Linked DNA regions of Homo sapiens. The protein of the gene in region 1 purifies or fractionates together with the protein of each later gene. This does not show direct contact. Each region holds a gene or a part of one and is shown in the gene's direction. Other genes may lie near its edges.

Region 1 (7,022 bases):
TCTTCTGAAGATAAGAACTTTCTTAGGGGTTCTAGATTGTTATGTAACTTTTCACTAATTTCTAGGTATCTGGTGACCCATCTCATGGGGGCAGATCTGAACAACATTGTGAAATGTCAGAAGCTTACAGATGACCATGTTCAGTTCCTTATCTACCAAATTCTCCGAGGTCTAAAGGTACAGATAATACAAGTAATAATTTTTTAAAATGAATTCTCCCTTTCTCCCCTCCTTTTAGGGCTTAAACAAACAAGTAAACAACTTTTCTAATGGAAAATTCAAACACATAAAATCACAGGTAAAGGTCATATAGTACAGTAAACTGCCATGTTCACTCAGTGACAACAGTTACCGACATATGGCCAATCATGTTTCTTTTGTATTTCCCAAGCCCTGGATTATTTTAAAGCAAGTCTAGACATTATATAATACCATCCATAGATACTTCAGTTTGCATATCTGAAAGATAAGGACTCTTCATTCTTACATCTAAACAATAATTTATTGATGTAATCTAATATCTGGTCAGCGTAATGTTGAGATTTTCAAAAAATCCTCAAGAAAGACTAATTTATTTGTTGGAGGGGCAGATAAACAGTGTTTTAAAATTAAACCCATCTTTGATATTTAGCTGCTTTGAGTCCTTATTGAGCTCCAGAGTGCCAACCAGAAAATAGATTAAAAGCTCAACTGAGTGGAGTCAATGGCTGTGGAAATTATAGTAATGGTAAATGTACACAATACTGATAGTTACTTATGCTGATTTCTAATCTTACTATTAACACTAGCAGTTCTTACTGATTCATGAAAATGTGCAGCAAATATGTTATATAATATGACAATAGAAGGTTGGAGGTAACTTTGACTTTTTTCTCTTTTGCAGTATATACATTCAGCTGACATAATTCACAGGGTATGTATTGTGACTTTGATTACATTATTTTGGGGAAGTGGGGTGAGAGTGGAAGAATGGCATTTAGCCAAGATCCTAATCTAAACTTTAGCCATTGAAATGTTGATTGATTGCAACTTTACTGTAGGTTTAAGCTGATTAAAGAAAGAAGATGTGTAGTTTTTTTCTATGTAAGGCTAACTTGGACTGGATATTGACTGTAGGATGGAGATTGTCTTTTGATAGCTGGATGAAGTCTTTTATGTCTGGATCCTCATTATTACCTGTAGGGGGAGAATTGATCATGCATCATAAAGTTGATCCTGTCTTCCCTGTATTTGCTTCCTAGGACCTAAAACCTAGTAATCTAGCTGTGAATGAAGACTGTGAGCTGAAGGTAAAATGAAGAGACAGTATTCATTGTTTGCTTTACTTTGAGATTATATGTTTGACTAAGCAGGCAGACTTTCTTAGGGAGTAGCTTTGTGAGCCATGACTATCTGAAATTCGTATTATTTTTATTATCAGACTTTGAAATTTAAACCATTTCTGAGTAAGCTAAGTGACATTGAAAGTGGCATCACTTGTTTTTATTTTAACATAAAGTTAAATTATAAATTTGATATATTAGTCATAATAAAGGAGGATAATAGTCAAATATCAAGTAAGTAGGCCCAAAGAGGTGATAACTAGATTAAATACATTTCTAAGAGGAGAAATGGCAGAAACCCACTCACTCAAAATAATTCAAATAAAAAATAAGTGAATTAATTGTTTCTAAATAGCAAGCAGCTCTAGAACTTTTGTTCCATTTCATTTTTTTAACTTGAAAAAATGTCTGTACATTAGAATGCACCATTTCATTTGGCAAAATTATATATCCACTTAACTCACATTTATGATAAAGACCATTTCTTTTTTTTTCCTTTTTTTTGGGATGCAGTCTCACTCTGTTGCCCAGTCTAGAGTGCAGTGGTGTGATCTTGGCTCACTGCAACCTCTGCCTCCCGGGTTCAAGCGATTCTCCTGCCTCAGCCTCCCGAGTAGCTGGGACTACAGGTGCACGCCATCACACCCGGCTAATTTTTGTATTTTTAGTAGAGATGGGATTTCACCATGTTGGCTAGGATGGTGTCGATCTCCTGACCTCGTGATCCACCTGCCTCGGCCTCTCAAAGTGCTGGGATTGCAGGTGTGAGCCATTGCTCCCAGCCAAGAACATTTGGATTACTTTAAAAAGTTTATGGCCAGGCGTGGTGGCTCATGCCTGTAATCCCAGCACTTTGGGAGGCCAAGGCGGGTGGATTATGAGGTCAGGAGATAGAGACCATCTTGGCCAACACGGTGAAACCTCATCTCCACTAAAAATACAAAAATTTAGTTGGGCATGGTGGCGGGCACCTGGAGTCCCAGCTACTTGAGAGGCTGAGGCAGGAGAATGGCGTGAACCTGGGAGGCAGAGCTTGCAGTGCGCCGAGATAGTGCCACTGCACCCCAGCCTGGGCAACAGAGCAAGACTCCGTCTCAAAAAAAAAAAAAAAAAAAAAAAAGTTTATTGTGTCCCTTCCTAGTCAATCCCTACCCCTCCACCCCTAACTCTGGCTCCAGGCAACTATGGATCTGCTTCTAACACTATAGATTAGGTTTATCTTTTCTGGAGTTTCATGTAAATGGAATCATATAGTGTGTATTTTTGTGTGTCTGGCCTTTGCTTGGTGTAATGATTCGGTATTGTTGTGTGTGTCAGTGGTTTCTTCCTTTTTATTGGTAATAGTATTTTGTTTTATGAACATAACAGAATTTTTAAATCTATCCACCTGCTGATGGACATTTGCTTGAGTTTGAGGCTGTGTAAAGCAACTGTGAATGTTTATGTGCAAACCTTTGTATGGACGTAAGTTCTCATTGCACTTGATTAAATACCTGGGAGTGACATTTTTGTTTTGCTTTTTGTAATTTCATTTTAAGTTCTTGCTGTATATTTACCATACATTCTAAGTATGGACCAGGAAATCTCTTTATGAAAGTGCTATTTTGTTCTCCTTTTTAATAAGGCAACAGAGGTTTGTTTGTTGTTGTTGTTTTGTTTTTTTTTCCCTGCCTGTTTCTAAGTCTTAGCAGTTTGTCTGTTCCTCTTCTGCCCTTTAGATTCTGGATTTTGGACTGGCTCGGCACACAGATGATGAAATGACAGGCTACGTGGCCACTAGGTGGTACAGGGCTCCTGAGATCATGCTGAACTGGATGCATTACAACCAGACAGGTATTACTCGCCTTGGTTATTTAGGGCCTTATTTAATTCCATGTTGGATGCATTTGGGATTCTCAGAAATAGAGATGGTGGGAGTGGGAAGAAATGTCTTTTCTTCCCTCAGTGATCCTTTTAAAGCCTGCAAGTAAAAATATTTCACTTCCTCAGATGGGGAAGTGGGGTTTTATACACAGCTTTTAAACCTTGTGATTTAGCAATTGGGTTTTTATTTATTTAGATTTTGAATATATTCTCTGAGTACTTATACCTAAAGACAATTAGTCCATAATTTTAACCCCTCAATGTTACTTGGAAGAATCTACCATTCTACTAATAAGAAACTTGCCCCTTTTTAAACAGCTTATTTCTCTTAAGTGTGTTTTGACTTACCCCACCTTTGAACAGCCCTTTAGTCAGGTGAAGATCTTAGTAAGCTATTTATTTCTGTAAAAATGAGTATGATTGTTGAGCCTCAGATGTCTTAAATAGTAATTTGAATATTTCACCCCTAGTTACGGTTTCATTTGTTGCCAAGAATTGTAACAGTGACATTGCATATACTTTTACTTCTTTTTAATTTTGCCAGTTGATATTTGGTCAGTGGGATGCATAATGGCCGAGCTGTTGACTGGAAGAACATTGTTTCCTGGTACAGACCGTATCCTTTAAAAAGTTTTGGATTCTTGTTTCTTATCTGTATTCCAGTGTCCATGGGTGTATACTCCTTTTACTTATCTCTAGGGAAGACTCTCAGTATTTTGCTTTTATAGTCTAGATAATGCATTATGAGGTCTTTCTTCAAACTGAGTAGCTTGCCTTGCCAAGAAAGAGGCTTCAGTTTACTTTTGTGAGTTGGAAAAATTCCTCATAAGTTGAAAAACCCATCAAGTCTGTCTTCTTTTTGCAACAGTCCCTTATTAATCATCCCACAGCAGTTCTGAGACCTGAGCATACTCATGAGAAACTCCAGATCCCAGTGACAGTTTTAGTCTTCTTGTATAAACACTTAATGAGCACAAGATGCCCATTTATAAATGAAGGGCATCTTGCTGTTATGTTTATGTATTAAAAGGGCTATGTTTGGTACCTGCAGTGATATACTGCTTACTTGTTATGTTTGTTGTTTGACAACAAATAGTAAAAGCAAGAAGTGAAAAGCTTACCATGTAATGTACTTTTGTTTTTCCAGCACAACTTTTTCCCAGATTGCAGCCAAACCCTAATTTACTCCAAGACTTACTGTCTAGTTTATGGTTTATTATAGCCCCTTTATTTTAGCTCCTTTCCTATCTGCGGTATGCTTGTTTCATGGTTTAGTATTAATGTCATGAAAAATGTGGTCTGTTGGAACTCTCATCAGTTCTACTTATGGAAGATGTTTAGGTGAGAAAGATTGTTAAAATATATGTCTAGAATTAGTTTTGGGGATTTTTTCTTTTTTTAATAGAATTGAGTTAACTAGCCTTCAGGTGGTTTTGGTTAGGCAATATTAGACATGCTACCTCTGATCTATTATGCCTAGAGATCTAAAAGCCATTTTAGTCCCTTACCTAAATAAACTAATTGAGTTTATAAACCAGAATGTCAATTCACTTGCTTACAGTTTGGGATATACTTCTGTAATGGCTATGATGTTCATGATATCTACCCACGTGTTCTAACTATCTTCTGCTAGAGAGAATGTACTTTCATTATGAACTGAAAAAACCTCTATTTCTCAGGTAAAGCTGTTTCTTTCTCTCTGAATATTAGGATTGATAACAGAGTTCAGTCTCCCTGTATTTAGCTTACCTTATTACTCCCTACCTCTGGATTTTAAATTAGTTTAATACCTGGTGTTTCTCCTTTGTCCTTTGTTTCATTCACCTTATATCTGTTTCTCAGAAATTTGGTATATATATATTACAGTCCAAGGTAAGAGAATTAGGGAAAATTCATACTTCCCCCTTTCCTCAGGTACATATCTCAGAGTCCCATCCTTGCTTTGTCCTCTAGAGTAGCTGCTGTCCTGATGCTATTCTCTGTTCCCTGCTCCCCTTCCTCTTCTTGTGTCTGTATCTCCAGCTACCATTTAGTCAGTCACAGACCTCCATGCCGGTGTAGACACACAAGGTGGCAGAGAGGGAAAGGCAGTATAACATACAGGTTAAGCACATGCTCTGGAGCCAGATTTCCTGGATTTAGATCTTAGCTCTTTTATTTCCAGCTATGTAACTTTGAGTAAGTTTCCTAACCTCTATTTCTCTCAGTTTCCTTAACCGTAAAATGATAATAATCATACATACTCACAAGGTTGTCGTAAGAATTCAGCCAGAAAATAACTGGAAAGTACTGAGACGAGCCTGCCAGTAAATGTTAGCCATCATGTTCAGTAATGGCCTTGCAAAACAGATTACCCCTTCACCTTCTCACTTAATTGTCTACCTATGAATCATTAATGTTTTGTTTTGTTTTTAATTCTGTGATAGGTAGGAAAGGATGGAACTCCTTGGCAGACTAGTGTTAGAAAGTTTTCGAAGCAGTGTGAGTCTTGTACCTTTGTGGTCCTGTCTCACAGACACCTGTCTATTCCCTGACCCTTTTAAATGCTAACTTTCTGCCTGTAGGAAATCTTCCCTTTGTGCTTAGGTCTTTTTCTTCTGTGAGCTTTAGATAAACAACCTAGTGTTTAAACTTTTTAATAAGGGATTCATTTTTTAATACATGAGAATTCATTTCAAAATTTTGGTTTTAGTTATTTATTTTATTCTACTTGGCTCTTTTTCAGACAGATGTTCTCTCCTGGATTGTAAAAGTCGAATTCAAAGGATTTTTATTTGTAATATACTTAACCTTTCTCTTGTAAGTTGCCATCTGTGTAGATACAGCTTTGATTGCCTGACAAGAGGAAAATGTTTCCCATTATCTTTTCCTGCCTGAACTATACGGTCACTTGTGTTCCAGCATAGTGGTTCTTAACCCTCATAGTGTGTCAGAATCACTTTGCAGAGCTTTTAAAAACTCTAGATGCCTGGGGACCACCCCAAAGACTCCATTTTGTTGTCATGGGTCAAAGCACAGTCTTCTAGTTTGCAGCTAGTGTTGAGTACAACTAGAGTTTAACCCAGTTGAATTTTAGTTTAATCTTGGCTGGTCTTGAAGATGTTAGTAATCTCTATTCATTTTTTTTGAAAAGTACCAATGAGATCAGAAAGTTAATTAGAAAACATCTAGTTGAATCCCCTGTTTTTAATAGATGGGGAAACCAAGACCCAGAGAATATAATCCAAAGCTACCTGTCACATAGGCCACAATTTCTTTTCCAATATTCTGTTCTTCGCTGTTCTTCTAATTTGCAGAACTCCTCTTTAAAAAACCTTTGGAGAATGTATTGGCCTCATACCCTCTTCCTTCAGCCTGAAAGACATGCACCTGTCACTTATTTATGATATTTAAATGCAACCTCTAGAACAGGGGTGTCCAATCTTCTGGCTTCCCTGGGCCACATTGGAAGAAGAAATGTCCTGGGCCACACATAAAATACACTAATGATAGCCGATGAACTTAAAAAAAATTGCAAAAAAAAAATCTCGTAATGTTTTCAGAAAGTTTACAAATTTGTGATGGGCTGCATCCAAAGCCCTGGGCCACGTGCAGCCCGCAGGCCCTGGGTTGGAAAAGCTTGCTCTAGAAGGTACTCATTGTTTGAGTGTCCAGTTTTCTCCCTGTTTTCCTTATTTATTGATCATTTTGCATTTGGAATTGGTGGTTTGGGCTTGTAAGTAAGAACTGTGTACTAGAACTTTTGTGGTATTGCAAATGTTTTATATCTGTGCTATCCAATGTGGTGGTTATAGGCACCAGCTGCCTGTGGCTAATTATTAAGCAACTGAAATGCAG
Region 2 (7,022 bases), on another chromosome or scaffold:
TTCATTAATCCAGAAGACCTGGAGGCTGGGCTGCCAGACAGCTGGTGACCCCCTTCTCAAGGGAGATCTAGGATTGAGCTTCAGATTAGGAGTCAAACAGAAGACTGAGGGTCAGAGAGCAGCGTGTGGGTGGGGATGCTGGAGGAGCCACATCCCCCTGGGATGAGGCTCATGTGAGCTGAGGACACGTCTGGGAAGGTGTCCCGGGGTGAGGCCCCTTGCTCCAGCTGACCTCGGCAGCAGGCAGTTCCTTGGGCGGAGCAGAGCCCAGGCTTGATGGTTCTGGCCCCGGGGTTGGCAGTCAACTCCGCCGCCAGTTGTCCCTGCCAGCATGGTCCTGTGAGTGTGCAGGGCAGGCCTGAGTACAGAGGTGGTTGCTGCTCACACCTGAGGATGCAGCTCTCCACTGGCTGTGGCCACTGTCTATGCCTGGACTGGCCAGAGCTTCTCTCTAGTCTCTTCCCAAACTCGACACCTTTGGAGGGTTCTGTCCCCAGGTGTCCCCAGGGCTGCCCTCTTGTTGCATATGCTCTAGGGTCCTTTCACCCCCCAGCTCCTGCCCCTCAGAGAGTGCCAAGTACCCACAGGCTACACCACCCTGTGATGGAGTCAGCCGCTGCTACTGTGCCAGGCACTGCTGTGACCCCTGATTTCCAGATGGGAAAGCTGAGGCTTGCTTAGGGTTGTAGGTGGTGGAGACACATGGGGCCCAAGCATCAGCCTGGGCTGTCCCCAGTGGCCTCCCTGCATCGGCTCCTGCTTTCTGGCTCTCCCTGCACCTGTGCACGCGGCCAGCTTGATGGGTGCCCAGACATCCCCAGAGCAGAAACCTGAGTTAACAGGACTCTCCACCATCCCCCACTCAGCCCTTCCACACCAGGCTCTGCAGGCAGCCAGAGGGGACGTCAGCATGCATGGCGCCAGTGGCTCCCTTGACCCTCCTCGTCCCTCAGCCTCATCGAGAGTCCTGCCCGCAGCCCCCCCAGCTGGTCCTGGGATGCACTGTGGCTTTGGGTGTCTCCTGATGGGGCTGGGCCTGGGCTGGCAGCTGTGAGGCTGCTGCAGTGACTCAGATGCTGTGTGACCCCAGGCAGTGAGGCCTTCCGTGGGCCACGGTTTCCCCATACACTGAGGGGTCAGCGGGGTGGGGGAGACACTGTTTGGATCCCCCCGAGGGGCTTTCTGGGAACAAGAGCCCACTGTGCGCCTGGGGAAGGCCTGGACACTGAGCCACTGTCTCTGGGAGGGCAATGTGCCGCTCCCTGGCCAGACTCTTTGTCCAGCCTGGGCCTGCCCCTCCCCACGCCTACTCCGGCTCTTCCTTTGGAATCCCACCCACTTGAGGCCCAGATGGGGATCTAGGCACACAGGGGTGGGGCAGACCAGAACACCCAGCACTGCCCACCCGCAGGACCTATAACTGTCGGTTCTCAGGTCCCCTCCTGCCTGCACTCCTAGCAGTGGGGGTTTTTGTGGAGGTGGGAACCCCAGGAGACCTGGATGTAGAGGCATGGCGGCTGGTGCCTCCTTCATGAGCTGAGCACTCTGCTGTCTCCTGGGGCCGACTGTGGTCCCCGGCTGAGACAGTCCTGGGGAGGTTCCTGGGGCCGACTGTGGTCCCCGGCTGAGACAGTCCTGGGGAGGTTCCTGGGGCCGGCTGTGGTCCCCGGCCGAAACAGTCCTGGGGAGGTCAGGTTCCCCGTACACGCTCACAGCTCTCGGCTCTTCTCACCCCCTGACTGTTCCTGCTTGCATCCGCTCATGCCAGGCAGCTCGTCTTCCCAGACCCAGCTGAGAGGTCATCTTGAGGAATCCTCCGTTACCCCAGATTAGGGACCCCGATGGCCTGCGTTGTTCAGTGATCAGTGCCTACCCAGCGGTGGCTTCAGAGCAGGCCAGTCCTGAGCACTGTGGAGGCAGCAGTGACAGGACAGTGGCCCATACATATGTGAATGAACTCCTGCCTTGTGCTGTGCCCAGGGATCCAGGCCAAGGACCGCCTTTGGGTAGTAGGGCAGCCTGAGGCTGCAGGTCCTCCCACACAGGGGAGGGTGGGCAGAGCGCATTTGCAGGGCTCTGAGATGGGAGGGAGTCAGGTGTGAGGAGCAGCGGAGAGCAGGAGCCAGGGAAGTCATGGATGTGTGTGAGCCCATCAGCTGGCAACGGTCTCTGTTGGCAAAGGTCACTCACACTCCTGAGTGAAGAACCAGCTGGATGTCGCCTAGTGCTGCTGGGCACAGGTGGAGACTCCTGGAGAGGCTGGCCCCCTGGATTCAGCCTGCTGATTCCTGGCAGTGGCCCCAGTCTCTACGCTGGGCCCTGCTCCTCTCTGGCCCCCATAATGGCCTCACTAAGAGCATTCGTCCATTTTCTGGGTGAGAACATGCTGGGAGTGTACTCAGAATGCTGTCCCAGCACTGTGGGTTCCGGAAGCCCCTTGCCGAGCACCACCTGCCTTCCCAACGTGTCTGATGCTGTCTGAAATTCCACCCTTAGTGTCTGAGACTCAGAGGTGGCCCCTCCTGGCTATTCCTTACCAGCAGGGTGATGGTACTGCAGTCCATATACCCTGTGGAGGGAGGGCTGGGGGACGATGAGGAAGTCTAGCTGTGACCCCTTCACGCTGTGGCTGGGCCGTATCCAGGACACGCAGGTCTGGGCTGGGTTTGGGTCACGAGTCAGATGCAGAGGGGTCTCCTGGTGCAGTTCCCAGAGGGACCTTGACCCACCCAGTTCTCAGTTAGGATGCCTTTCTGTCCGACCCTGTTGCACTCTGGGGCTCTGCATGGGTGAGGGGCCCTGGAGGGATTTCCCAGTGATGTGGAGTTGCTGCCCTTGGCTCGTGCCCCTGATTCCAGGCCAAGTATGGGCCAGGGACAGGAACTCAGCCTTAGGGGGCCATGTGGATGGAATGATCCCTGGGCACCATGCCTGGGGAGTGCCCCAAAGCTTTGCCCCCCAGCTCTCACCTGGGACCTGAAGTGCACAGTCAGCTCAGATAAGGGGCTGGAGCGTGAGGGGTGGGGTAAGAGCCAGCAGAAGGCATCCCTGAAGTACCCCCTCCCACCTGTGTCTGTTCTGGTCCCTGTAGGACCAGTAGGGGCTGTGAGCAGCATTCCCAGCCTTTCCCTGGTAGTACAGGGTCGGAAGGAGCCGTGAGCTCTGTCCCAGGCCTGTCCCTGGCTGGCATAAGACCATTAGGAGCTGTGAGCAGCACCCTGGGCTGTCTCTAATTGTGCTGCCCTCCATATATGACCGTGAGCGAGGCAAGCCTGTGTTTCCTGGCCTCAGTTTCCCTATTTGTACAGCATAGGTGGGGCTTTCCTCCAAGCAGTTGGGAGGGAGACCTGTGAGTGAAAGCCATTTCTGGGGCCTTGGTGGGTGGGTTGCCGACCCAGCGGCTCCGAGCCTGTCAGAGGCTGCAGCTCTTTAAAGAGGCTGAGGAATTTGGGGTTTTCTGTCCAAAATTGCTTCAGCTCTGGCCAGCCCCCCACTATCTGTCTCGTGTCATGCTCAGGGGCCCTTCTCAATCTGGGTCTCCACTGGAATCGCCGTGTGGTCCCCCTGGGTTGGGGACAGCTGCAGGTCTGCCAGGAAGGTGTAAGGGGGAAATGGAGTCGTAGTCATATGGCCAGGCAGTGGTGGCCAGAATCGAACCCTGGCCTATCTGCTCTGGGGCCTTCCGTGGGGCCCTGGCCCCGTGCCTGGCATGTCATGGTAGAGCCAAGCTTGCAATGCCCCGCAGCCCCGGCACCGAGCCGCCTCACTGCTGTTTCTGGGCGCGTGGCGTCACCTGGTGGTCACTACGGTGTCTGCGCCCGGGTGGTTTCTGGAAAGTCATTTGTGCCCAGGAGCCTGGGGCCACTAGCTGCTGCTGTGTCACCCTCTTTCCTGAATGTGGTGACTCTATGCACTGGACCGATCACACACCTCTTGCAGGCTGTCATGTGCATAGTGGGCCCTTTGTCCCTGGAGTGGAAGTCTGGGTGGGTAAGAGGGTGAGGCCTGGTAAGACAGGTGTGAGATTTGCCCTGGGCACAGACTAGGGTGAGCCTCCTGTCACTGAGACCTCAGATCGGCTGTCCCCTGTGTGTGGAAACCCCTGCAACCCCAGCTGTGCTCACTCCCCTCCTTCAAGCCTTTGCTCAGCTGTTACTTCATGGGGAGGCCTCACTGCCTCCTGTCAAGCAACCCTAGTTTGCTTCCCCCGCTCCCATCATACTTAGCATCTTTTAACCAGTACATTCACTCATTTAAAAATATTGTCTAGACTGTAAGCTCCAGGAGGGCAGGGATTTTGTCTCGTTTCTCCACCAATGTGCCTCAAGCACCTAGAGCAGTATCCTGACCATAGTGTGTGCTCAGATAGTTGTCCCATGGACTTATGTTGTCTGAGGACCTAGGCTGTGCCCAGCACTGTCTGCTGGGATGAACAAGGCAGGCACAGAGAAAGTCGGTGCTGAGCACACAGTAGTGCTCTGACAGTGGGGGACATGAGCACCACGGTTGGGCTCATCACTGCTTCTCCCTCCTCCCGGGTCTGGGTGCAATGAATCTTCAGATGTCAGCTTTGTCATTATTGAATAACACACCATGCCCCGCAGGCCTGCCTTGCTCTGCCAGGAACCATGAGTGAGGCCCGCAGGGACAGCACGAGCAGCCTGCAGCGCAAGAAGCCACCCTGGCTAAAGCTGGACATTCCCTCTGCGGTGCCCCTGACGGCAGAAGAGCCCAGCTTCCTGCAGGTAGGCCCTGGCCTGCAGGGACTGTGGGTGCCCCCTGTCCAGTACCCTCACCATGACCCTGTTGCCCAGCCCCTGAGGCGACAGGCTTTCCTGAGGAGTGTGAGTATGCCAGCCGAGACAGCCCACATCTCTTCACCCCACCATGAGCTCCGGCGGCCGGTGCTGCAACGCCAGACGTCCATCACACAGACCATCCGCAGGTACCAACACCGCCCAGCTGCTCCATGGGGTGGGAGCTGGGGGCTGGTGGGGCAGAGGCAGGTACACAGAGGATGGAAATGAGAACAAGGGCCCTCTTGTTTCAGCTTCCTCCTCCATCTCGGTCCCCACCATCCCCTTGCCCTCCTCCTGTTCTGGATACTGACCGCTCTCACCCCACTACCCTGCTCCACTCCCTTCTCTTCAGCACTCACTCTCTCCTTCTCTGTCTCCACCGCCCGGATGCTCTTGCCTCTTAGCAGCCGACAAGTACGCTTCGGGCGTGTCCACACTCTGCCCCTCTTGGGTCCCCGGGCTGCCCGCAGGGCCTTCCCACAGCGCCAGTCTCTCTCTTGGTCCCTGCTCAGGTATCTCATACAGGTCATGAGTGTGTTGGTGTTTTCTGGCATGTGCTTGGCATGTGACCTCTTGGGAGCTGCCAGTGTGGTTGGCATTCCCTGGGGCTCCTAACGGCAGGTGCTGGCAGTGTTTTTGTTTGCATGTCCAAGTGCTGTGGACAGCCTGCCTGGGCCCGTAAGCACCTGCTGTCTGAGCTCTGTGGTGTCCTGGGGCCAAGCTCTCTCGGGTTGAGCTCTCAGCTCCTTCTCTGGACTCAGTGCCTCCCCTCAACTGCCCCTCAGGGATGGTGGGGTGAGGGCCTCTATGAAGCACTCAACCGGGCAAGGCCAGCTGCGGTCTAGTGGAAACTTGGAGTTGGCTAACAGTTCAGGGGGTGGCTGGAACCCACTCATCCTCTTATTAGACCTTGCCCACTCAGACCCTGGTCCCTGGAGTGACTACAGGCCTGGGGGCAGCATGCTGCCCCGGAGGAGGGCCTTTGAAGTCCCCTGCCTGGGAGGGGCGATCTGGCCGCCCCTTGCTGAGTCCCTGCCATGCCAGGGGGACCGCCGACTGGTTTGGAGTGAGCAAGGACAGTGACAGCACCCAGAAATGGCAGCGCAAGAGCATCCGTCACTGCAGCCAGCGCTACGGGAAGCTGAAGCCCCAGGTCCTCCGGGAGCTGGACCTGCCCAGCCAGGACAACGTGTCGCTGACCAGCACCGAGACGCCACCCCCACTCTACGTGGGGCCATGCCAGCTGGGCATGCAGAAGGTATGCCTGCCTGTTGCTGCCTCCTGCAGGCCCCTCCTTCCGCTCTCAGGGGCTGGGGCTGCGGACACAGCCAGCCTGAGCAGAAGGGACTCTCTGGGAGCTCACAGTCTGGAAGGGCAGTCAGACAGCCTGCTCGTGAAGGCACCTGAAACAGTCTCTGGGAAGGGGTACCTTGGGATGGGGACATGGTCTTGGGATTGCACCAGGGGGCCAGTGTCTGGATGGGAGAGCATTCCAGGCAGGACCTCTAGGTGCTGTGGGGTGGGAGTGGTGGCCATAGAGCTGTCCAGGGGCCCGTGAGGAGTCAGGAGCAGCAGTCACGCTGTCTTTGCAAGGCCTCTGTGCCTCTGGGTGAGCTAGGAGCCCCCATGGTCCTGACTCCAGCATCTCCTCCCCTCCTCCAGATCATAGACCCCCTGGCCCGTGGCCGTGCCTTCCGTGTGGCAGATGACACTGCGGAAGGCCTGAGTGCCCCACACACTCCCGTCACGCCGGGTGCTGCCTCCCTCTGCTCCTTCTCCAGCTCCCGCTCAGGTTTCCACCGGCTCCCGCGGCGGCGCAAGCGAGAGTCGGTGGCCAAGATGAGCTTCCGGGCGGCCGCAGCGCTGATGAAAGTGGGTGCAGGGGCCAAAGGCGGGGTTGGGGGCCGACCCAGCAGCCGGGTCTCATGCTCACTTCCCCGTCCCCAGGGCCGCTCCGTTAGGGATGGCACCTTTCGCCGGGCACAGCGTCGAAGCTTCACTCCAGCTAGCTTTCTGGAGGAGGACACAACTGATTTCCCCGATGAGCTGGACACATCCTTCTTTGCCCGGGTAAGAAGTGCCCGGGGTGTCCCCCCACCCCACGTTCCCTTCCTGCCTGTGTCCACCCTGACCTCATGTGTTTGCTCAGGAAGGTATCCTCCATGAAGAGCTGTCCACATACCCGGATGAAGTTTTCGAGTCCCCATCGGAGGCAGCGCTAAA
Region 3 (7,216 bases), on another chromosome or scaffold:
CCTGGGGGCCCAACTCCATATCAGAGAAGCTGGAGAACATATGTCAAGTCATATGCACTGTGTTCTTTATTGAGATAGAAGTGGGGTGGGGAGGGTAGCCCATAGGCAGAGAAGTGAAAGGAGGGAGGAGTGGGAGCCATCTATTTCCCAACTCTGCCTTTCCTCCCAGCTGATGATGGTGGGGGCGTGGCCACCAGCCATGGGATTAAGAAGGAAGACCCCCCACCCTTAGATACAAGCACAGTGCTGCGTGAGAAGGTTGGGCACTGTCTCATACTTGAAAGAGTAACCTCCATCCGAGGTGGTGCGGACATGTAGGGGCCTCATGGTCCCTGGGAGAGCAGCACAGCAGGGCTGGGCCCCTGGCAGCAAGGAGTAGGGCTGGGCTGGGGTAGGGGGAGCCCCAGGGACTGGAAGGGACAGGTTTGGTGGGATGTGCAGCCCACAACCACCATGACAGTAGTGGAAGATGAAACTGGGAGGGTACACGATCCACCGTTCCCAGCCCAGCTCCTGGAAGGAGATGTTCAGTGCTACTCTGTGGCAGTTGGCATGGGCAGCCGGTTCCTCCGGAGGCCTCTGCAGCAGGCGCAGAGCAGAGGGAGACCAAGGCCAGGACATCAGGGGAGTTGAGCGTCGGGCTCTCTCCCCTCCACTGGGTGGTCTGGTCCGAGTGTGGGCCACCAGGAAGGGCGTGGCCTCAGGCCGGGCTGAGCAGGTACAGAGGGGACAGCGCAGCAGCAGCACCAGGACGGGGTGGGTCAGCAGAGAGAGAGCAGAGGTGGCCAGGTGCAGCACGGCCCAGTGAGGGGGAGCATGGCCCAAAGACATGGGCACAGCCACGGGTCCTCCCGGTGACAGTGCCAGCAGGCCTAGCAGGGGCTCAGAGCTATTGGAGGCTGCTGTGCCCTGCCTGTCCAGCCCGGTGTGGAACCACAGCTGGGCTGAAGTCACCTGGCGGCTGCGTGTATGCTGGGATGGCCGGAACATGTATCTGAAGAGGCCCTCCTCAGCCTCCTGGGCCAGCCCTCTGGCAGCTGACTTGTCCTCACAGCTGGCATCTGCAGGAGACAGAAGAAAAGGGAGAGGGCAGCCCTGACTGGCAGGACCTGGCACCCCTCCTCTTCAGCAGGAGGGATGTGGCCACCAGTCATGAGCCAATGATGGGCTGCACTCTGCTCCACGCCCTCCGGGACGTGGGGACTCTCCTGAGTTTTGGGAGAGCTTCTGTAGGCTTCCCATTTTTTAATTTCATCATGAAGGGACTTAAAAAAATAGAAGACATTGCCAACTTCTCTCTGAAGTGGTTTTACCAATTAACATGCCCATCAGCAGTGTGTAAGAGGCCCTCTCTCCACTTCACCAGCACTAAGACTTTGTATTAGACTTCAATGCTTACTCACCAGATAGTGTGAAACAGTATCCTGAATGGTGTCTACATGGATGGTTGTTATATTCTTTTTTTTTTTTTTTTTTGAGACAGAGTCTTACTGTGTCACCCAGGCTGGAGTGCAGTGGCATGATCACGGCTCACTGCAGCGTCTACCTCCTGGGCTCAAGCAATCCTCCCACCTCAGCCTCCTGAGTAACTGAGACCACAGGCGTGTGCTACCACACCTAGCTAACTTTTGTGGGTTTTGTAGAGACAGGGTCTCGCTATGTTGCCCAGGCTGATCTCAAACTCCTGAGCTCAAGCAATCTGCCTGCCTTCACCTTCCAAAGTGCTGGGATTATAGGCGTGAGCCATCACACCCAGCCATATTACCATTTTTTTTTTTTTTTTGAGATGGAGTCTAGCTCTGTCGCCCAGGCTGGAGTGCAGTGGCGCCATCTCGGCTCACTGCAACCTCTGCCTTCCGCTCCGCCTCCCACGTTCAAGCAATTCTCCTGCCTCAGCTTCCCGAGTAGCTGGTGCCACCATGCCTGGCTAATTTTTTGTATTTTTAGTAGAGACGGGGTTCACCATGTTAGCCAGGATAGTCTCGATCTCTTGACCTTGTGATCCTCCTGCCTTGGCCTCCCAAAGTGCTGGGAGTACAGACGTGAGCCACCGCGCCCGGCCTATATTACTCTTTATATCTTTGGCATGTCAGGAATATTGTAGGATAAATTCTTTAAAATAATTCCATTTTTAAAAGACAGGTTTACACCAAAAAAAAAAAAAAAAGAAGAAGGAGGGAAAGGCAAGTGGGAAAGGGAAGAAAATGGAGAACAAGGAAGAGGGGGAAGAGAAGGAGGAGGGCTGTAACTCAGAACAGAGGGCAGTCCTTTCAAGAATGTGTAGTTAGCATCCTCACACTGACACACTCATAGACTATACTAATCATCCTGGAGCAGCACTCGTTCATGGACTGGCAATTGGAACTATACTGTTACATGGCTTCTCTCATTATCTAGTCACAATTGGTCCATTTTGCAGATAAGGAAACTGAGGCTTAGAGAGGTGAAATGACGTTCAACGACTAAGTGGCCAGGCTTGGATTTTGCCTGATCCCAAAGCCATCCTTCTCCCCACTGTGCTGCGAACGGACTGAAGTGAGGGAGGCAGGGGTCCTCTCTAAGAGAAAGGTGGACCAGATGACAAGAAAGCCCACCCACAGGAGGGCTTATCCATTCAGTCAGTGGAACAAGGGGGCACATATATGTTGAGACAGGAACTCAAGAGAAGATAGACTAGTTTTCCAGAAAAGTTTCCCAACTAATCTTTTGCCTGTATCTCTGATAGCTTCTCAGTGTCAGCTACCTGGGAGTAAAGAAACAGGGTTTGGAGCAGCGAGCAGAGGCAGAGATAGGAGGAAAGGTGGCAGGAAGGGGCTCAAGCCCAAATATCTCCATCTTTAGAGACCCCCGGTCTCCCAGCGCATACTTCCCAAATGCCTCCCACCTGCCATGCACTCTAGGTACAGCCTCTCACTTAATCCTGAGAGGTGGGCATTAGCCCATTTTACAGATGGGGAGACAGAAGCATAAGGAAGTTTAGTAACTGGCCTATTGCTGCAAAGCAACTGAGTAGCAGGACTAGGATTCAAACCCAGGTCCGCCTGGCCTGCAAACCCATGCTGTGCCTTGCTTTTTCTCAAAGTCATCCTGCCGGTTCCCCCACCCTCGTTACCTGTGGCTGGGAAAAGGATGGCTTGGGAGACATCCTCCTCTTCCTCGGGCTCAGAGCCCCTGTGTGTGAAGCCCCCCAGGGCATGTCTTCGGGGCAGCCGCCTGACTCCAGGGTCCCCACCTTCCCTGGTCACCGCGGGGGGCCCCAAGGCATCCAAGAACAGGGCCCTCACCTTGGCCAGAACAAGTTCCCGGGCCAGCTCCAGCCCCTGGCAGCTGTGCCCACCCTGTGGGGTCAGCAGCAAGAAGAGCAGTAGGTGCAGCACCATAGCTCACCTGGCCCTGCTAGTGGGGAACTCACACCCTGCCCCGTGCCCCTTCTGCCAGGGTCTGCCCAGGGCCTTTCCACTCTCCCCTCCCCATCCCACACCCACCCTCTTCTACCCTTCTCATCCAGTCTTCCCCAGTCCTTTCCACGCCCCACAGTCCGAGTTGCCCCTGCCCGTGGCATTGAGACCTCCTATCTCTGACGCAGATGTCTGTGGCCATGAGCCTTATCTCCCACTCCCGCCAGGGATGTGGGGGAGGGGCTGGGAAGGATTTCGCCTCAAGCGACCTGACTCACACATGCAAACATACAACACCTTCTCCCTACACACACACACACTCACACACACACTCACACACACACTCACACACACACAAATTCTCACACACACACACTCTCTCACACACACACACACAGACACATCCAGAGGTGACATCAGGTGGGACAGGAGCCTGGGAGCTGTAGCCGGCCAGCCCCAGAAAGTGTTATTTGTCAGGGAGACAAAGTGCATCACCCCTCAGACCTTCTGGGGCCCCTTTCAATAAGCAGCTGCTGGCCGGCCAGCCCTTGGGGGCAGGGCTGGAACCGGGGCTAGAACCGGGGCTAGGGCCGGGGGCAGGTGGTCCTGCCTGCTCTATACTTAGACCAGTGGAGCCAGTCTGGGCTCTTGTCCTCCAGCTGTGTCATCAGAGAATATTTTTGGGATTGGCAGCTGCAGGCGCCTCTGCCACTCAGGCCCAAGCCTGGCGGGCGGCTGGGGACCTGGCGGCTGGAGGTGGGAGGGAGGAGGGGGAAGAGGCCCAAGCTGTGGGAGGGGGCTGGGAAGAGAGGCTCCTAAGAGCAGGAAGCCAGGCAGCGGGCAGGGGAGGCTGCGGGGCCACTCGCTGGAGAGGCAAACAGGAAGGACTGCCCCCTGAGCGCCAGGCTTCGGGCCCGGGAATCGCCGCCGCCGCCGCCGCAGAGCTGCAGCTCGGGGCCGAGGGTAAGGAGGCGAGCCGGGAGCGGGAGGCCCGGGAGAGCTCCGCGGGTCCCCGCGCCCAGTCCCCAGCCGCGCCCCGACCCCGCCGCCCCGGGCCTCGGCTCGCCCTCCGCACCCCCCCCTGCCCCCCCACCGTTCGCCGCTGCAGGCGGTCGGCCGCCGCGATGAAGGCGAGCTCGGGGGATCAGGGGAGCCCCCCGTGCTTCCTGCGCTTCCCGCGGCCTGTGCGGGTGGTAAGTGGCGCCGAGGCCGAGCTCAAGTGCGTGGTCCTGGGGGAGCCGCCGCCTGTAGTGGTGTGGGAGAAGGGCGGGCAGCAGCTGGCGGCCTCGGAACGCCTGAGCTTCCCGGCGGACGGCGCGGAGCACGGCCTGCTGCTGACCGCCGCACTGCCCACCGACGCGGGGGTCTACGTGTGCCGCGCCCGCAACGCGGCCGGCGAGGCCTACGCGGCGGCCGCCGTCACCGTGCTGGAGCCGCCGGCCTCCGACCCCGAGCTGCAGCCCGCCGAGCGCCCGCTGCCATCGCCGGGGTCCGGGGAGGGCGCCCCGGTCTTCCTCACGGGGCCTCGATCCCAGTGGGTGCTGCGGGGGGCGGAGGTGGTGCTGACGTGCCGGGCGGGGGGCCTCCCCGAGCCCACACTGTACTGGGAGAAGGACGGGATGGCCCTGGACGAAGTGTGGGACAGCAGCCACTTCGCGCTCCAGCCGGGCCGCGCCGAGGACGGCCCCGGCGCGAGCCTGGCACTGCGCATCCTGGCGGCTCGGCTGCCGGATTCCGGCGTCTACGTGTGCCACGCCCGCAACGCGCACGGCCACGCGCAGGCGGGGGCGCTGCTCCAGGTGCACCAGCCCCCCGAGAGCCCGCCCGCGGACCCCGACGAGGCCCCCGCGCCGGTGGTGGAGCCGCTCAAGTGCGCGCCTAAGACCTTCTGGGTGAACGAGGGCAAGCACGCCAAGTTCCGCTGCTACGTGATGGGCAAGCCCGAGCCCGAGATCGAATGGCACTGGGAGGGCCGCCCGCTGCTCCCGGACCGCCGCCGCCTCATGTACCGCGACCGCGACGGCGGCTTCGTGCTCAAGGTGCTTTACTGCCAGGCCAAGGATCGTGGGCTCTACGTCTGCGCCGCGCGCAACTCGGCGGGCCAGACGCTCAGTGCCGTGCAGCTGCACGTGAAAGGTACGGCGGAGCCCGGGACCTAGGGAGGGGCCTCGAGTGTCCTCCGAGGCCCTCCGAACTCCAGCCCTCCTCGGTGCCCAGCGCTGCCCCCAAGACTGGAGGAGAGGTGGTCCGCGGGAATATTAAAATACCAAACCCGCCCGCCTCTCACTCCCCAGGGATTCGGATTTAGTAGGTCTCCAGGGTACTCAGGAACTTCTTAGCAAACTCCTTAAATGATTCCGAGGCAGATGGTGGAACACCACTAAGGAGTGATTGATGTACAAATCCGGAGGGCCCTAGAACTCTTCTTCCCTAGTGGTTTTCAACGTCTTTGTTATTTTACTCCTCCTTCCCCCACTGAATTCACAACCAGAGCCCCAATATATGAGACAGATAAAGGAGTAGTTTATGGGCGTAAATTGCTGAGTCTACGTATATAACAGGTACTTCTAAACCATCAGTGAGAATAAGGAGGCTATTTTATTGAATACAGGAATTTGAATTAAAGGCTGCATTCATGAGACCAGGCTCTGAACCCTGTGGGGACGGCCTGGCTGCATCTGTCACCTTGAGAAACAAGTGATTCAGTGGAAAGCTAGACTTGAGGGAGGACAAATGTCCTGCGTGTTTTTACTATTCTTTGATTAAACTGCTCCCCACGTTTGCAAGAAGAGGAAGGTGAAGGAGAGAAGGTTTATATTTCAAAGTTGAATCACCAACAATATCCAATAAATGGTTACATTCTCATAAACAGAAAATTCCAAAGGAAAAAAAAGCACACCCCAAACTCACCAGAAGGTAACGCTCCCCATAATAGGATTTCATCACAACGCAAAAGAGTACACCTTCACTAGTTATTGTCCAGTTTTTTCTCTTAGAGGAAAAAAAGTTGGTAAATTCTCCTGAGTCCTTCCTAGCATGCAGTCAAGCATGTTGCCCCCAGGCTGCGGTGGTGGCCTCACTGTTACAGTTCAATGCTCACAGATTCATCAGGTTGGTGCTGATCTGGACCTCCATCAGGAAAGAAAAGCCCGGAGGGAAGGCTAGAGGAGCTTCCCCGAGTTGCATACACACACGCACACAAAAACTTGCTTCTCCAGCAGCCCTAGTTAATCCTCTGATTTCCAACATCCTGTTTTCTTTTCTTTTCTTTTTTTTTTTTTGAAATACACTTTTGAAAAGGGTTAAAATAGCTAGGCACAGTGGCTCACCCTGTAATCCCAGCACTTTGGGAGACTAAGGTGGGCGGATCATTTGAGGTCAGGAGTTCGAGAACAGCCTGGCCAACATGGCAAAACCCCATCTCTACTAAAAATACAAAATCATTAGCCAGGCGTGGTGGCGCCTGCCTGTAATCCCAGCTCTACTTGAGAGGCTGAGGCACCAGAATTGCTTGAACCCAGGAGGTGGAGGTTGCAGTGAGCCGAGATTGCGCGACTGCACTCCAGCCTGGGCAACAGAGCGAGACTCCATCTCAAAAAAAAAAAGAGTTAAAATATTTTAAATTCTACTCAGACCCTTGCAGAATATGTGAAATGACTGGGGCGGGGGGAGCCAGGGAACAGTTTGGAAATCACCAATCTAGGGCCTGGAGGACCCCAGGGAACAGTTTGGAAATCATCAATCTGGTCCAACCCCTTCTCTCCCTTTCCCCATTTTACAAGTAAGGAGACTGAGGCCCAGAAGCATTGAAATGGACT
Region 4 (7,129 bases), on another chromosome or scaffold:
CTGACTTCAGGCGATCGCCCGCGTAGGCCTCCCAAATTGCTTGGATTACAAGCTTGAGCCACTGCCCCTGGCCCGCGTGTCCCATTTTTTTTTTAAATGGCAACAAAATGTAGCTGGGTAGAGGGATTTCAGCCGTGTTTTGTTTCTCTTCCCCATTCTTTTCCAACTTTCCATTTATTTTAAACAAATGCAAAAGTGAGGCTACAGTTCTCGTTTTTATTATTTTATTCTGTGATGGCTGGAGAAGGGTCTCACCTGCCAGAGATCTGTGCAATTAAAAACACCCACAGCTGAACCGTTCAGGGGCTGGCAATTTTTTTTTTTTTTGAGATGGAGTCTCGCTCTGTTGCCCAGGCTGGCGTGCAGATGGGCGATCTCCGCTTCCTGCAGCCCTGACCTCCCGGGCTCAAGCGATAGGCCCACCTCAGTCTCCCGAGTAGCTCAGACCACAGGCGCACACCATAATATTCGGCTAATTTTTAAATTTTTTGTGGAGACCGGAGTCTCGCTATGTTGCCCAGGCTGGTCTCCAATTCCTGGGCTCAAGCGATCCTCCTGCCTTGGCTTCCCAAAGTGCTGGGATTACAGGCATGAGTCACCGCCCCCGGCCGGAGGTTGACGATTTTTGCAAAAATATGGAACATTTGGGATTTTCATTTCTTAGATTATCCTCCTTGCGCCGCTCCCTGCTCCCCCACCAAATAAAAAAAGAAAAACAAACAAAAAACAAAACAAACAAACAAAACGAAAGCCCTTTTATGACTACAAAACCCAAACGTCTCATCTGCGAGGTCACCACTTGGAAGGCACTGTCATGAGCCCTCAGACTTGCGATTCTTTAATCAGCATTCCTGAAACCTAGGTGTCCTTAGGATTTTTCATTTTTTGGTTTCTACAAACAGCTTTTCAGGGAAGCTGGCTTTGGGGATGAGGCCTAAGGGAGGCACCAGGGGCAGAAAAGAGGAGCTCCTGCCCTCGTCCTCCGTGGCGCCCCCACCCCCACCATCTCCCTGCAGCCTCGCCTCCGCCTCCGCCCCACCCGCTTAGTTTTGATCCGCGCGGAGGAGCGCGTCCCGTGGTTGCCATGGAGACCGCCGGACTGCGGAGGCCACAAACTGTGCGAAGGGGGAGGCGAGGGGCGGGGCCGCGGGAGGCCCGGGGGCTGAGCGCGGCGGCTGGGACTGAGCCAGGGAGAAAGAGGAGAAAAATCCAGCGAAGCCCAACGACCTGGCTCTGCAAGAGAAAAACAACCTGAATAAGCCGGTAATTGTGAACAGGCCGCTCGCTGAGACCTTAACGTCCCCTAAGCCCCCACATCTTTTCTTTCCCTCTGGCCCGTCTCTTTTTCCTCCGTTCCCTCTTTAAAAATTTGCCTGGTTCCTTTATGAGTTAAATAAGATCACATTTATTTATTTATTTGAGACGGAGTCTCGCTCTGTCGCCCAAGGTGGAGGGCAGTGGCGCGATCTTGGCTCACTGCAACCTCCGCCTCCCAGTTCAAGCGATTCTTCTGCCTCAGCCTCCCCAGTAGCTGGGATTACAGGCATGTGTCACCATGCCCGGCTAATTCTTATATTTTTGTTCGTTTCTTTTTTTTGTTTGTTTGTTTTTGAGACGGAGTTTCGCTCTTGTTGCCCAGGCTGGAGTGCAATGGCACGGTCTCAGCTCACTGCAACCTCTGAATCCCGGATTCAAACGATTCTCCTGCCTGAGCCTCCGGAGTAGCTGGGATTACAGGCATGCGCCACCAAGACAGGCTAGTTTTGTAGTTTTAGTAGAGGCGGGGTTTCACCATGTTGGCCAGGCTGGTCTCAAACTTCTGACCTCAGGTGATCCACCCGCTTCAGCCTCCCAAAATGCTGGGATTACAAGCGTGAGCCACCGCGCCCGGCAATTTTTGTATTTTTTAGTAGAGATGGGGTTTTGCCATGTTGACCAGGCTGGTCTCAAACTCCGGACCTCAGGTGATCCGCCCGCCTCAGCCTCCCAAAGTGCTGGATTAAAGGCGTGAGCCACGGCGCCCAGCCTGAGATGGAGAATTTTCAAAAGAGTAGAGACAGATCGGACCTAAGTTTTTAAAAGATGCCCCCAGCTTCTGGATGGGGCCTGGATTGCAAGCAGTGATGGGGAGGCGGGAAGCCCAGTGAGGGGGCTTTGTACACATCCAGGCAAGAGTGGCTGCAAGTATTGTGGCTGCTAAGTGGTTAAATGGTGCAACACATTTAGGAGAAGGGGATTAGCTGTGTCTTTAGCGTCAGCTAGTGTTTTAAATGCTAGTGCCCAAGATCTGGTTCTAATATTATATTAGATCCACCACTCAGAGCTGTGCAACTTCAGACCAGCCTCAGTTTCACCGTCTGTAAAAAGATGATTGATGGCACTGGCCTTACCATGTACCTCTGAGGGTTCCTAACAACGAGGCCTATTCAACATGTCTCTGGATGCCTGGTTCCAAAGATGTGGACCAATGCTAGTCGCATGTCCTGTAGCAGGAGGAGCCACGGACAAAACCCCTCAGACACTGGGTTAAGGAAGGATTTGGCTTTTTCGGCCGGGAGCTTCGGCAGACTCGCCTCTCAACTGGCGGGAGCTTCGGTAGACTCGCGTCTCAAGAACCGAGCTCCCGGCCGAATGCGACTAGCATTGGTTCACATCTTGATTCTTTTTTTTCTTTCTTTCTTTCTTTTTTTTTTTTTGAGACGGAGTCTTGCTCTGTCGTCCAGGCTGGAGTGCAGTGGTGCGATCGCGGCTCACTGCAACCTCCGCCTCCCGGGTTCAAGAGATTCTTCTGCCTCAGCCTCCCGAGTAGCTGGGACTACAGGCACGTACCACCACGCGCGGCTAATTTTTTTGCATTTTTAGTAGAGACAGGGTTTCACCGCGTTAGCCAGGATGGTCTTGTCTTGATCTCCTGACCTCGTGATCTGCCCGCCTCAGCCTCCCAAAGGGCTGGGATTACAGGCGTGAGCCACCGCGCCTGGCCATCTTGACTCTTTGGTCGACACAAAAGGCAGACTATTCTGGATTCAAATCCAAACTCAACCACTCCCCATGGCTGTGACCTTGAGAGTGTGGTTTTATGTCCTTGGGCCTCAGTTTCCTCAGCTGTCTAATGGGAATTGTACTCATGCTACCAGTCTCCTGTTATAGCAAGGATTTCCTGAGTTCATTCATAGAAAGCACTGGGAATGGTGCCTACTACATAGGAAGCGCCTCATAAACCGTGCCTATCCTTAGCCATCTCATTCTTTTTTCGAAGTTGCAAAATATTTCACTGTAAGATACTACCATAAAATAGAGGCAGTCTCTACTCGTGAACTTTTAGGGTTTTTTGTTGTTGTTTATTTGTAGGGGTTTTTTTGCACTTTTGTTTTTTTGAGACAGTCTCCCTCTGTTGCGCAGGCCGGAGTGCAGTGGCGCGATCTCTGCAACCTCCACCTCCCAGGTTCACGCCATTCTCCTGCCTCAGCCTCTCGCGTAGCTTGGGACTACGCACGCGCACCACCACACCCGGGGTAGAGACGAGGGTTTCACCATGTTGGGCAGGCTGGTCTCGAACTCCTGGCCTCAAGTGTTCCACCCACCTGGGCCTCCCAAAGTGCTGGCATTACAGGCATGAGCCACCGCGCCTGGCCATGAACATTTGGGTTTATTCATCCCCTCAAAAATATGTATTGAGCCCTGACCTGCCAAGCGCCACAGTGGGACTGTTGCAGTCAGGTACCCATTTCTCTACCCACGCATATAGGTGTACGGGTACCGATAGTCGCGTGAATTTAAAATGCTAATCTGTGGTGCCAGTGGCTCTCAAAAAGTAGAATCCACTAGCACACCCACCTCCCGGACTTGGCTGGAAACTTGCACATTTCGGATGGCAGGTTTGGGAACCGCTGCCTTTCAGGAAAGGTGCTGACGTGGGCCACTGCCGCTTCGCTGGGAAGCAATGGGCCCAGCTAGGCCCGGGGCGCGGCCACACCCCTGTGGGGGAGGGGAAGGAGGCCGCCCCGAAGGGAGTGGACAGCCCCCCTGTCAGTCTTCCAGAGTCTGGGAGTGTAAGATGAGACGGGGGAAGGTGGGCCTCATTCTGGCGGAGGGCGAGGAGGAACTTCCTGCCCGCGCGCTCCACGGTGCAGAGCTCTAAGCGCGCGGGCTGGCAGGCTGCGGCGCGTCAAGGTCAGCCTGGAGCTGGGTGGCGGCCTGCCTGGGGGCGGGGGACCCTACTGGAGGCCCGGGCTGGGGCCTCCCAGCGCCTCGGCCATATTGAATAGCTTCGACTGGACCGTCTTTGTCTGCGAAGTCCTGTCCCAAGTTCCAGCCGCGTCCCTGGGGCCTGGGGCAGGAAGAGTCGCTGGCAGCCCGCGCGCCCCAACTTGGAGCTGGGACACCACGTTTCCAGCTTGGAGTGGGCCTTGAGCCTTGGGACTGACCTCGCCCCCGGCTCACGTAGGCATCCTGGAAATTGATTCCCCCAAGTCCTTGGTGGGGGAGCCGGACTTGGTCAAGACTGTACTTGTTGCAGGCGAAGAGATTGGAGGCGTTTGGCTCGTCCCTGGCTAGGGAGGTGAGACTCTCCGGTCAGCGTTGCTGGAACTCCCCCCATCCAGTCCCTCCCTCAAGACTAAGGGCTACAGTAGTTTGTTGGGGCTCATTGCCCCCTCACCCCAGATATCACCCTGGAGATCTTAAAGACTCTCGAGAAAAGCCACGTGGGGGGCTGGTTCCCCTGGGGCTTCCTGCCGTCCCCCGACTGCCTCATTCTTTGGAGCGTCCCCGATGTCTGCAAAGATGTGGATTTGGACGTCCTCGTGGAAGCCCTAAAGCCCGTGGGGACATTTAAGAAGATCGGCAAGGTGTTCCGCAAGGAGGAGGACTCCACGGTGGGGATGCTGCAGATCGGGGAGGACGTCGACTATTTGCTCATCCCCCGGGAGGTCAGGCTGGCTGGGGGCGTCTGGAGAGTCATCTCTAAGCCCGCCACCAAGGAAGCAGAATTTCGGGAGCGGCTGACCCAGTTCCTGGAAGAAGAGGGCCGCACCCTGGAGGACGTGGCCCGCATCATGGAGAAGAGCACCCCGCACCCGCCCCAGCCCCCCAAAAAGCCCAAGGAGCCCCGAGTGAGGAGGAGAGTGCAGCAGATGGTGACTCCTCCGCCCCGGCTGGTCGTGGGCACGTACGACAGCAGCAACGCCAGCGACAGCGAGTTCAGCGACTTCGAGACCTCCAGAGACAAGAGCCGCCAGGGCCCGCGGCGGGGCAAGAAGGTGCGCAAAATGCCCGTCAGCTACCTGGGCAGCAAGTTCCTGGGAAGCGACCTGGAGAGTGAGGATGATGAGGAACTGGTCGAGGCCTTCCTCCGGCGACAGGAGAAGCAGCCCAGCGCGCCGCCTGCCCGCCGCCGCGTCAACCTGCCAGTGCCCATGTTTGAGGACAACCTGGGGCCTCAGCTGTCCAAAGCGGACAGGTGGCGGGAGTATGTCAGCCAGGTGTCCTGGGGGAAGCTGAAGCGGAGGGTGAAGGGTTGGGCGCCGAGGGCGGGCCCCGGGGTGGGCGAGGCCCGGCTGGCCTCCACCGCAGTGGAGAGCGCAGGGGTATCATCGGCGCCAGAGGGCACCAGCCCGGGGGATCGCTTGGGAAACGCGGGAGATGTTTGTGTGCCCCAGGCTTCCCCTAGGCGATGGAGGCCCAAGATCAACTGGGCCTCCTTTCGGCGCCGCAGGAAGGAGCAGACAGCACCCACAGGTCAGGGGGCAGACATCGAGGCTGATCAGGGGGGAGAGGCTGCAGATAGTCAAAGGGAAGAGGCCATAGCTGACCAGCGGGAAGGGGCTGCAGGTAATCAGAGGGCAGGGGCCCCAGCTGACCAGGGGGCAGAGGCTGCAGATAATCAGAGGGAAGAGGCTGCAGATAATCAGAGGGCAGGGGCCCCAGCTGAGGAGGGGGCAGAGGCTGCAGATAACCAGAGGGAAGAGGCTGCAGATAATCAGAGGGCAGAGGCCCCAGCTGACCAGAGGTCACAGGGCACAGATAACCACAGGGAAGAGGCTGCAGATAATCAGAGGGCGGAGGCCCCAGCTGACCAGGGGTCAGAGGTTACAGATAATCAAAGGGAAGAGGCCGTACATGACCAGAGGGAAAGGGCCCCAGCTGTCCAGGGTGCAGATAATCAGAGGGCACAGGCCCGGGCTGGCCAGAGGGCAGAGGCTGCACATAATCAGAGGGCAGGGGCCCCAGGTATCCAGGAAGCTGAAGTCTCAGCTGCCCAAGGGACCACAGGAACAGCTCCAGGAGCCAGGGCCCGGAAACAGGTCAAGACAGTGAGGTTCCAGACCCCTGGACGCTTTTCGTGGTTTTGCAAGCGCCGGAGAGCCTTCTGGCACACTCCCCGGTTGCCAACCCTGCCCAAGAGAGTCCCCAGGGCAGGAGAGGCCAGGAACCTCAGGGTGCTGAGGGCCGAGGCCAGAGCAGAAGCTGAGCAGGGAGAGCAAGAAGACCAGCTGTGAGGTGAGGGCTAGAGACAGCCCACGGGCCCTCCCTCCAAGTGTGGGAGGGAGAGATGCTCTGCCTCTGAACTTCAAAGTGGAGGTGGAGTGCTGGCCACGTCTCCACCTAACAACCCTCTTTATTCTCTTGTTAAAGTTTTGTTCATGCTTTGATTTTTTTTTAAATTTTTTAGAGACAGGGTCTCACTCTGTTGCCCAGGCTGGAGTGCAGTGGCATGATCATAACTCACTGCAGCCTCAAACTTCTGGCCTCAAGTGATCCTCCTGCCTCGGCCTCCCAAAATGCTGGGATTACAGATGTGAGCCACCACACACACCATCTGATTAAAAAAAAAAAATACTGATTCCTTGTAGCAACCCAAAAAATGTAAAGAAAGAATTCGACACAATGGGGTTGCGTCACCTATAGTTTTCATTTCCTCAAATGCAACTCAAGGTGCTCAGCTTGATAAAGGGAGAGAGGGAGGGCAGGGGAGAAACTGACTCCTTTTTCCATCTCTTTTTTGCCTGCACACTTAATGTGGACTGCCTCCTTGGACTTAAAAAGAGTTGAGCCAACATGCAAATCAAAAAACATTTATGAACTGATTTCTTAGCTTTGGACTTGACAACTGACGAATGCTCTGGGG

The links.
Region 2: the proteins of MAPK14 (region 1) and RHBDF1 purify together in Homo sapiens (affinity purification with mass spectrometry; 4 studies listed by BioGRID and IntAct, with this or other methods). This does not show direct contact.
Region 3: the proteins of MAPK14 (region 1) and OBSL1 purify together in Homo sapiens (affinity purification with mass spectrometry; 8 studies listed by BioGRID and IntAct, with this or other methods). This does not show direct contact.
Region 4: the proteins of MAPK14 (region 1) and CCDC8 purify together in Homo sapiens (affinity purification with mass spectrometry; 5 studies listed by BioGRID and IntAct, with this or other methods). This does not show direct contact.

The regions. Positions count from the first base shown.
Region 1 is NC_000006.12:36,072,808-36,079,829, forward strand, and holds part of MAPK14 (mitogen-activated protein kinase 14), read left to right. Parts: intron 1-65; coding exon 66-177; intron 178-883; coding exon 884-913; intron 914-1,241; coding exon 1,242-1,289; intron 1,290-3,040; coding exon 3,041-3,155; intron 3,156-3,729; coding exon 3,730-3,801; intron 3,802-5,027; exon of another isoform or gene 5,028-5,057; intron 5,058-7,022. UniProt on the Homo sapiens protein: Serine/threonine kinase which acts as an essential component of the MAP kinase signal transduction pathway.
Region 2 is NC_000016.10:62,622-69,643, reverse strand, and holds part of RHBDF1 (inactive rhomboid protein 1), read left to right. Parts: intron 1-4,604; coding exon of another isoform or gene 4,605-4,628; coding exon 4,629-4,745; coding exon of another isoform or gene 4,746-4,814; coding exon 4,815-4,945; intron 4,946-5,843; coding exon 5,844-6,057; intron 6,058-6,461; coding exon 6,462-6,671; intron 6,672-6,746; coding exon 6,747-6,869; intron 6,870-6,948; coding exon 6,949-7,022. UniProt on the Homo sapiens protein: Regulates ADAM17 protease, a sheddase of the epidermal growth factor (EGF) receptor ligands and TNF, thereby plays a role in sleep, cell survival, proliferation, migration and inflammation. Does not exhibit any protease activity on its own.
Region 3 is NC_000002.12:219,568,539-219,575,754, reverse strand, and holds the start of OBSL1 (obscurin-like protein 1 isoform 1 precursor), read left to right. Parts: upstream 1-4,215; 5' UTR 4,216-4,522; coding exon 4,523-5,534; intron 5,535-7,216. Other genes in the region: INHA (inhibin alpha chain preproprotein), read right to left, coding at 229-1,061, 3,113-3,380. UniProt on the Homo sapiens protein: Core component of the 3M complex, a complex required to regulate microtubule dynamics and genome integrity. It is unclear how the 3M complex regulates microtubules, it could act by controlling the level of a microtubule stabilizer.
Region 4 is NC_000019.10:46,410,565-46,417,693, reverse strand, and holds the start of CCDC8 (coiled-coil domain-containing protein 8), read left to right. Parts: upstream 1-4,129; 5' UTR 4,130-4,883; coding exon 4,884-6,500; 3' UTR 6,501-7,129. UniProt on the Homo sapiens protein: Core component of the 3M complex, a complex required to regulate microtubule dynamics and genome integrity. It is unclear how the 3M complex regulates microtubules, it could act by controlling the level of a microtubule stabilizer.